Linked DNA regions of Homo sapiens: all the other regions are linked to region 2. Evidence: fine-mapped expression QTL. A gene starts in region 2. Each other region holds a variant in brackets. All regions are shown on one strand. Distances are from middle to middle.

Evidence for each region. PIP is the estimated chance that this variant, and not a neighbour inherited with it, causes the effect. A credible set is the group of variants that fine-mapping cannot tell apart.
Region 1: its variant is the best candidate, but not a certain one, in a credible set for the expression of KCNH2 in regulatory T cells (Bossini-Castillo 2019, PIP 0.61).
Region 3: its variant is the best candidate, but not a certain one, in a credible set for the expression of KCNH2 in ovary (GTEx, PIP 0.56).

The regions. Positions count from the first base shown.
Region 1 is chr7:150,947,976-150,950,628 of GRCh38, reverse strand. KCNH2 (potassium voltage-gated channel subfamily H member 2) reads left to right here. Exons shown (of 15, transcript NM_000238.4): 9 at 209-461; 10 at 1,580-1,773; 11 at 2,086-2,185. Among named protein-coding and RNA genes, the nearest start is that of KCNH2, 29 kb to the left of the region's middle. RefSeq lists an enhancer at 1,004-1,744. The variant T/AAT (reference allele first, on the strand shown) is at 1,221.
Region 2 is chr7:150,977,042-150,979,694 of GRCh38, reverse strand. It overlaps KCNH2 (potassium voltage-gated channel subfamily H member 2), which reads left to right and starts at 1,374. Exons shown (of 15, transcript NM_000238.4): 1 at 1,374-1,857. The coding sequence starts at 1,782. It overlaps LOC124901776 (a long non-coding RNA gene), which reads right to left. Exons shown (of 3, transcript XR_007060592.1): 3 at 2,340-2,653. RefSeq lists a silencer at 357-706.
Region 3 is chr7:151,020,944-151,023,596 of GRCh38, reverse strand. ATG9B (autophagy related 9B) reads left to right here. Exons shown (of 14, transcript NM_001317056.2): 3 at 88-152; 4 at 391-552; 5 at 2,268-2,409. Among named protein-coding and RNA genes, the nearest start is that of ATG9B, 2.2 kb to the left of the region's middle. The variant G/A (reference allele first, on the strand shown) is at 1,649.

The DNA of each region.
Region 1 (2,653 bases), 29 kb after region 2:
TAGAGCCCAAGGGTGCTCGGCCAGGCATGGTGAAGCTGGAGTGGGGTCCCAGGTCCTTCCCAAGACACTGGGCCCCCTGATGCTTCCGAGATCTCCCAGGCCTGGAGGTTGAGATTTCTCTGACATGGAGGGGTGGGATGGTGGAGTAGAGTGTGGGTTGGGGGGTCCCAAGGGAGGGTGTGCTGAGCTGCCCCCACCCTGCCCCCAGGTGCTGAAGGGCTTCCCTGAGTGCCTGCAGGCTGACATCTGCCTGCACCTGAACCGCTCACTGCTGCAGCACTGCAAACCCTTCCGAGGGGCCACCAAGGGCTGCCTTCGGGCCCTGGCCATGAAGTTCAAGACCACACATGCACCGCCAGGGGACACACTGGTGCATGCTGGGGACCTGCTCACCGCCCTGTACTTCATCTCCCGGGGCTCCATCGAGATCCTGCGGGGCGACGTCGTCGTGGCCATCCTGGGTATGGGGTGGGGGGCGGGCACTGGACTGGAAATGCCCTCTGCAGCCTCAAGAGGTGCGAGCCTTCTGAATATGCAGTCACTGGGGCTGTGGACCTGGGACTGCCTGCAGGGTCACTGGGCTCCTTTAATTCACCTAAACTCAGGCCCTCCAAGCGGGGCCATGGAGAGGAGCCCCACGTGGGGTGAGGCTGCTGAACTCTGGGGTTCCCACATTCTCCTTCCCTTCAGGATCCGCCACAAACAGACACTTTTTGCTTCCTTAAAGTAGGATCAAATCTAGATCCTCTAGCCTGGGCAGTAGAGGAAGAAATGCTAGCCTGGAAGCTCGGCATTTGGTTTCACTAAGGGCCATGTGGTTCCCTGCAGCCTCATGCCTGGCCCCTTGACACATCCAAAGCAAAGGGAGTCCTGCCCCCTCCCCCCACTTCCTTTCTACCCTGCCTGTGCACAGTGGGTGGGTTGGTGTGTCTGGACACTGAGGACTTCCTCCCCCTTTGCCTGTCCTTCCCTCGGCCCTGTGTGCCTCAGGGCAGATATAGCAAGCTCTTTCGACCATAGTTGATGGTAGGACATTTTAGACTTTGTTTCTCAGCTCTGTACAAACACAAATACACACCCCCACAAAACTAAAATCAAAGTTTCACTACATAACACTGGGCCTTACTGCATGTGGTTCATTCTAGCATTTCTGTTCTGTGCTGTGCTAAGCTATACTACTGTATGTTCTTTCAGTAAAAAAAAAAAAAAAAAAAAAAAAA[T/AAT]GCTGGTTTTGATTCACTACTGTGTTCTGATCTTTGGTTTGAAGAACATTGCTTATAAGGGTGCAGTGATTGGCTAAGAGGGTGTTTGGGACCTGGGGTTTGGGGTAGTCCTGCTGGCTGGGTCTCATTTGCTGGGAGACCCTGGGCTCCTGGCCCCTCTGGCACTGTCGTGCCTGCTGGGAGCTGAGGGAGGGTGGGCTGGCAGATTGCTTCCCCGGTTGTGTGGGTTGGGGGCCGGCTGGCAGGCGACCCAGCTGAGGGGACATGCTCTGCCCGGGGTGGGGATGCCGGGAGAAGGTGCCTGCTGCCTGGATGCCGCCCCCCGGGGCTGAGCTCCCTGTCCTCTCCATGGCCTCCAGGGAAGAATGACATCTTTGGGGAGCCTCTGAACCTGTATGCAAGGCCTGGCAAGTCGAACGGGGATGTGCGGGCCCTCACCTACTGTGACCTACACAAGATCCATCGGGACGACCTGCTGGAGGTGCTGGACATGTACCCTGAGTTCTCCGACCACTTCTGGTCCAGCCTGGAGATCACCTTCAACCTGCGAGATGTGAGTTGGCTGCCCTGAGCTGGACCCCATCCTCCTGCTTCCAGCTGTGTGGCTGCCCCTTTGCTGTGTGACATTGAATGTGATGCTTCTCTGTCTCAGTTTCCCTGTCTGTCAAATGGTATCATAGAGCAGCCTACAAAAGTCCCAAACTCAGTCTTTGCCTGGGGCAAAATCACATTGGGGGCAGGGAAGGGTTTTCCCAGAGCTGGGGCGCCCAGCCCTACTTTTTCTGTGTTAAGGAGGGAGCTTGGGGCCTGACCCCGGTGGGGCAGGAGAGCACTGAAAGGGCCCTGATACTGATTTTGGTTCCAGACCAACATGATCCCGGGCTCCCCCGGCAGTACGGAGTTAGAGGGTGGCTTCAGTCGGCAACGCAAGCGCAAGTTGTCCTTCCGCAGGCGCACGGACAAGGGTGAGGCGGGGGAGGGGAGGAAGGGGGAGGGCGGGGACAAGGTGAGGCTGGGAGCTGGAAGGCGGGGTGGGCCGTGTCTGCTTTACCCAGGCCTCAGACCTTCCCATCCCTTCCTCCAGTGTGCCCACTCCACACCCCAGCTGTCCAGATGCTGCCCATCTTTCAGGGCCCCTGCAGCTGTCACCTCCTCCAGGAAGCCCTCTTCCACCCTCCAGGGCAAGCCTAGGCTTTTTGGACTTCACAGGGCTGGGGTCTCTGTGAGCACTGAGGAGGAAAGAACATAGAACAAAGGAGGGCCAGGGAGCCAACGATGGGGCTGAGGCCCCGCAGTCCCAGAGATCCGCCAACCCCTGAAGCACCATTGCCAGTGCTTGGGCAGTCAGGGGGTCCTGGGAGTTCTTGGTCGGCTTGACAGTGGGTGCAAGATAGCAGAAGAAGCGACTGGGGACAAACCAGGGCTTCCTGCCC
Region 2 (2,653 bases):
GTTTTCTGCGCCTTCCTCCTTCGGGACTCCGATTCCTTCCCTGCCCTTTGTTCTTCCCCTCCCCCCATGATGGTTCTCGCTGGTGACAAGACCCAGCCCCTGCTCCAAGGACAGAGGCAGCTGCAAGCCCTCAGGAGCCCCCACATGGCCCCATCCATCTAGACAGGTCTCTGATCCGGCTGCAGGGAGGGGACCCTCGGCTGTTCAGCTGCGACTCCTCCCTCCCCGCCCGCCCACTCAGCTGTCAACACTCGCCTCCCCGCCCTGGCCTTCCCGGGGCCCTGCCTGACTGCTAAGTCCGAGGACACCGCGCCCGGAGACCCTCACTCAGACGCAAGCAGGCGATGAGCAGGCGGCGGGGCAGACACCCCGCCTGCCCTTGAGCATCCCTAGGCCTCCTTGCCTAAATAAGGGAGCCGCAGCTGGAGCGAGCCAGCTGGCCGGGGGGAGGGGCCTGCGGCTAGGCCAGGGCTTTCCGAGGGGCTGGGCCGTGGCCGCCGCCGCAGGGCCCCGAGCCCGCCGATTGGGCGTGCAAGGCTGGCCCCGGGCTGCCGGGGGAGGGCGGGCCGCTCGCACCCGGGGATCCCCTGGTTGGAACCTCGCGCTCAGGGACCTCTCTTTGATCCTGCAGCTAGGAGGCCGCAACTGCTGTCAGAATGTCCCTCTCTGTGCAGCTCCTATGCAGAGCCCCACAGAGGGCTCTCTCTCTCTCCGTGTGTGTGTGTGTATGTGTGTGTGTGTGTGTGTGTGTGTGTGTGTGTGTATGTGTGTGTGTGTGTGTGTGTGTGTGTGTGTGTGTGTGTTGGGGCAGGGGGCGTGCCCCTTCTAAGTTTAACCCTCCCTTATTTCAGAGCTCTGCTGCTCTGGGGCCTTCAGATTGTCTTGCTTTTCCTATTTCCAGGGTCTCCCTTGACTCCGGGCTCGTCTTCGAGGGTCCAGGCGTTGCCCCGGTCACCCACAGTAGGCACTGAGCGCGTGCTGTGTATACCAAGCCAGTGCTCGGCGTGGTGGGGAACCAGGGCATAAGGACCCGCCGTTTCCCTTCAAATCAGGTTTCTTAGTCGCTAATCTGGGGTGGGGGTGGAATCCCTTCCCCCATCCCGGCCGCCTACAAGCCGGCCATGGCACCTGTCCTCACGGTTTCCCCTGCCTAAGGGTCCCTTCCCCCTCTTCTGGGCGCGCGAGTCCCAGGGGCTCCTTGGCAGAGCGAGGGGCTGGCGTTGGGGGAGCACTCGGCGCGGCTCAGCCAATGGGAAGGTCGGGCGCGCGCGGTGGGGCGGGATGGGGGGGGGAGAGGGCGGTGCTGCGGGCGCGCGGCAGGCGGGAGGGGGCCGGGAGGCGGGGGCCGGAGCCGGAGGGGCGCGCGCCGCATTAACCCTTCCGCGGCCGGGCCGAGCCGCAGGCGCTGCCCGAGCCGCGGGCGCTGGAGCGGCTGTCGGCGCGGTGGCAGGCGGGAGCCAGGAGTCCGGGGCTCGGGCGGGCGGAGCGCAGCGCGGGGACGCGGCGGAGCGGGCCCCGCGGCTCGGCGGGGGCCGGCAGACAGGTGTGCCGGCGGCGGGCGGCTCGCGCTCAGGCGGCTCCAGGCCGGGCCCGGGGTCCGGAGCGGGGAGCCGGGAGCCGAGCGAGGACCCGGCGCCCGCAGTCCAGTCTTGGCCGCGCCCGTGCTCGGCTTGGCCGCGGGGTGCGGGGACCACGGCCCGGCCGGGCCACCCGAAGCCTAGTGCTGGGCCGGGCCGGGCCGGGGTGGGTGGGGGCCCGCCCGGCCCGCCCATGGGCTCAGGATGCCGGTGCGGAGGGGCCACGTCGCGCCGCAGAACACCTTCCTGGACACCATCATCCGCAAGTTTGAGGGCCAGAGTGAGTGGGGGAGGGGGCTGAGCGGGGAGGGGGCTCTGGGGGCGGGCCGAGCTCTTCCGAGTGTGGATGGGGGGGCGTGCCCGGGCCGTGTGCGTCGGCAAGTGCGAGTCAATGGGGCCTGGTGGGCCCCAGGCTTTGGCGAGGGGACGGCGGGGGCAAGGCTTGGTGCACCGGGGCCGTGGGCACCGGGCCAAAGGGTTTGGGGTTGGGGCTTGGGGCGGGAAACTCAGCTCAGGCTTTTGGGATCGGAGTGTGTGTGACACGCTGAGTGTGCAGGGAAGGGATGTGGGATGGAGTGTGCAGGTGTCCCCAACTCTGGGTGCGTGGACGTGGATGGGGCTGTGTGCAAGGGCATAAGAGTGTGTACGACCCAAACCCTGGGATCCCGAGAGTCCAGCGCGCACACTGGTCTTGCCAGATCTTGACTGTGTTGTGCCGGAGGGACTGAAAAGCCGTGGATGCAGGGTCAGCTCATAATCTCTTCTTGTGTGTGCCGTGTGTATATAACCCTGAGCCCATGTGTCACCCGTGAGTTAGACCCTGTATGGGCGGTGGGGAGGTGTCTTTGACAAGGCTGCGAGCTTGTGGGCTCTGTGGAGACAGGGTGTCCTGGGGCTAGAGCTGGGCTTTGAGGGTAAGCAGCTCCCTGTGGTACCCCCAAGTTGTGGGTTTTCTTGCCCTGGAGACTGTCACCTAATTCCCTTATGGGGACCGGGAGTACAGCACCCCTAATGCCTGCCTGGTAGGGAGGCTTCTAGAAGGGTCCCAGATTAGGCAAATGTCCTGGGGGTGGGCA
Region 3 (2,653 bases), 44 kb before region 2:
ATGGGTGGGAGACTTGTTGGGGCTGAGGGGAGGTGTCCTCAGGAGAGGCCCCCCGTGCCTCAGGCTTGTTCCTTGACACGCAGCCACATCTACAGCTACCACCAGCGGAATGGCTTTGCCTGCATCTTGCTGGAGGATGTCTTCCAGCTGGGGTGAGACGCTTAGCCCGGGCCCGGAACTCGGTCCCCTGGGCCCATGGCTTCCTTCTGTCATTTTGCTTCCTTAATTGTGCCAGCTGCTTCCATCCCATGCTTTCCCGAGCAGCCCAAGGGCTCAGCAGGGGCAGGGTCAGGGAGGATAACCATGGGCTGCTCTGGGGGCTGGGGCAGGAGCCCACCTGGCTGTCCCTGATCACTGCAGCATCCCGGCACCCCCCCTTCCTCCCGGCAGACAATTTATTTTCATTGTCACCTTCACAACCTTCCTCCTTCGATGCGTGGATTACAATGTTCTCTTTGCCAACCAACCAAGTAACCATACCAGACCTGGGCCGTTCCACAGCAAAGTGACCCTGTCAGATGCCATCCTACCCTCAGCCCAGTGTGCTGAGAGGTTAGTGACAACCTGGTGGGGCCCTGGGGGTGAAGCATGGGCAGTGGGTAGAGGAGTAGACGGGAGCCCCACTTTGTCCCGTCATCTAGATCAGCAGTTCTCAAAGCTTTTGGTCTTAGGACCAAAAATACACTTAATATACTTTAAGTTGTACTTAAGTGTATTAAGTTGTACTTAAAGTGTATTAAGTATATCTTTTTTTTTTTTTAAGACAGAGTTTCACTCTTGTTGCTCAGGCTGGAGTGCAATGGTGAGGTCTTGGCTCACTGCAACCTCCACCTCCCAGGTTCAAGCAATTCTCCTGCCTCAGCCTCCCCAGTAGCTGGGATTATAGGCGTGCACCACCACGTGTATTTTTAGTAGAGACAGGGTTTCACCATGTTGGCCAGGCTGGTCTGGAACTCCTGGCCTCAGGTGATCCACCCACTTTGGCCTCCCAAAGTGCTGGGATTACAGGTGTGAGCCACTGTGCCCGGCCTTTTAAGTGTATCTTAATTACAGTGCATTAAGTGTATCTTAATACACTTAAAATTGGTTGAGAATCCTGAAAAGCTTTTGTTTATGGGAGTCGTATCTATCCACATTTTACCTTATAAAAAATTAAAATTAGGCCGGGCATAGTGGTTCACACCTGTAATCCCAGCACTTTGGGAGGCTGAGGCAGGAGGATTGCTTGAAGCCAGAAGTTTGAGATCAGCCTGAGCAACAAAGTGAGACCACATCTCTATAAAAAATAAAAATTAGCTGGGCTTGGTGGTGCGTACCTGCAGTCCTAGCTAAGCCTAGTCAGGAGGCTAAGACAGTGACTGTCTCTGATCACTGCAGCATCCCTACACCCTCCTCCCTCCCAGCAGACGATTCATTTTCATTGTTGCCTTCACAACCTTCCTCCCTGAAGCATGGATTGCAATGTTCTCTTTGCCAACCAACCAAATAACTGTTCCAGACCTGGGCCGTTATTTGGCAGGGAGATAGGAGCTATGTTTCTACTGCTGCACTACAGCCTGGGTAACAGAGAGAGACCTTGTTTCAATAAAAAGGAAAAAAAAAAAAGAAGGAAATTGTAGCTGAGAACAACTTTAAAATGTAAGAGTGC[G/A]GCTGGGCGTGGTGGCTCACACCTGTAATCTCAGCACTTTGGGAGGCCGAGGCGGGCGGATCACAAGGTCAGGAGATCAAAACCATTCTGGCCAACATGGTGAAACCCTGTCTCTACTAAAATATACAAAAATTAGCCAGGTGTGGTGGCGGGCGCCTGTAGTCCCAGCTACCCTGGAGGCTGAGACAGGAGAATCATTTGAACCCGGGAGGTGGAGGTTGCAGTGAGCCAAGATTGCGCCACTGCACTCCAGCCTGGGCGACACAGCAAGACTCCATCTCAAAAAAAAAAAAAAAGAGTGTACAAGCACACATTTCATCAGCTGTCAGTGTGATGTGACATGTTCACGTGTCTTGTAGCCTCTGGAAAACTCCACTGTACTCTCAGAGTACAAGAATGAAAACATCAGAAAGCATTAGTATTATTTGGAAAAAGTTTGACTTTGCACATTTGTGAAGGCCACTTCAGCACCCACCCCCTGCCCCGGGCTCTACCTTGAGAGCTGCTGGTCTAGCTAGATCCCCCTCCTCATGATGGTTTTTCCTCACTCCCGAAGTCTGGTCTGCCTCTTTCTCAGGCGCCCACCTTTCTCCCCCACTGCCCGCCCAACCCCATACAGGATCCGCTCCAGCCCGCTGCTGGTCCTCCTCCTGGTCCTGGCTGCCGGCTTCTGGCTGGTCCAACTGCTTCGCTCAGTCTGCAACCTCTTCAGCTACTGGGACATCCAGGTGTTTTACAGGGAGGCCCTGCACATCCCCCCGGTGAGCTGGGTGGCTGTGTCTGTGCAGAGGGTGCCGTGAGAGGGTGGGCAGAGGAGAGGGGAAGAAGTGGGACTGTACAGGTGGAAGGGCCAACTGGAAAGAGGGCAGAAAGAGCGAGGTCTTATTGACACCTGCCCTAGGCCCAGAATAATGTCAGGAGGGGGCTACCACCACCTAGAGAGCATGGCCCTTACCCTAAGGGAGTTTAGTTTATTTAGATGGCTCATATAAGATGACATATAGT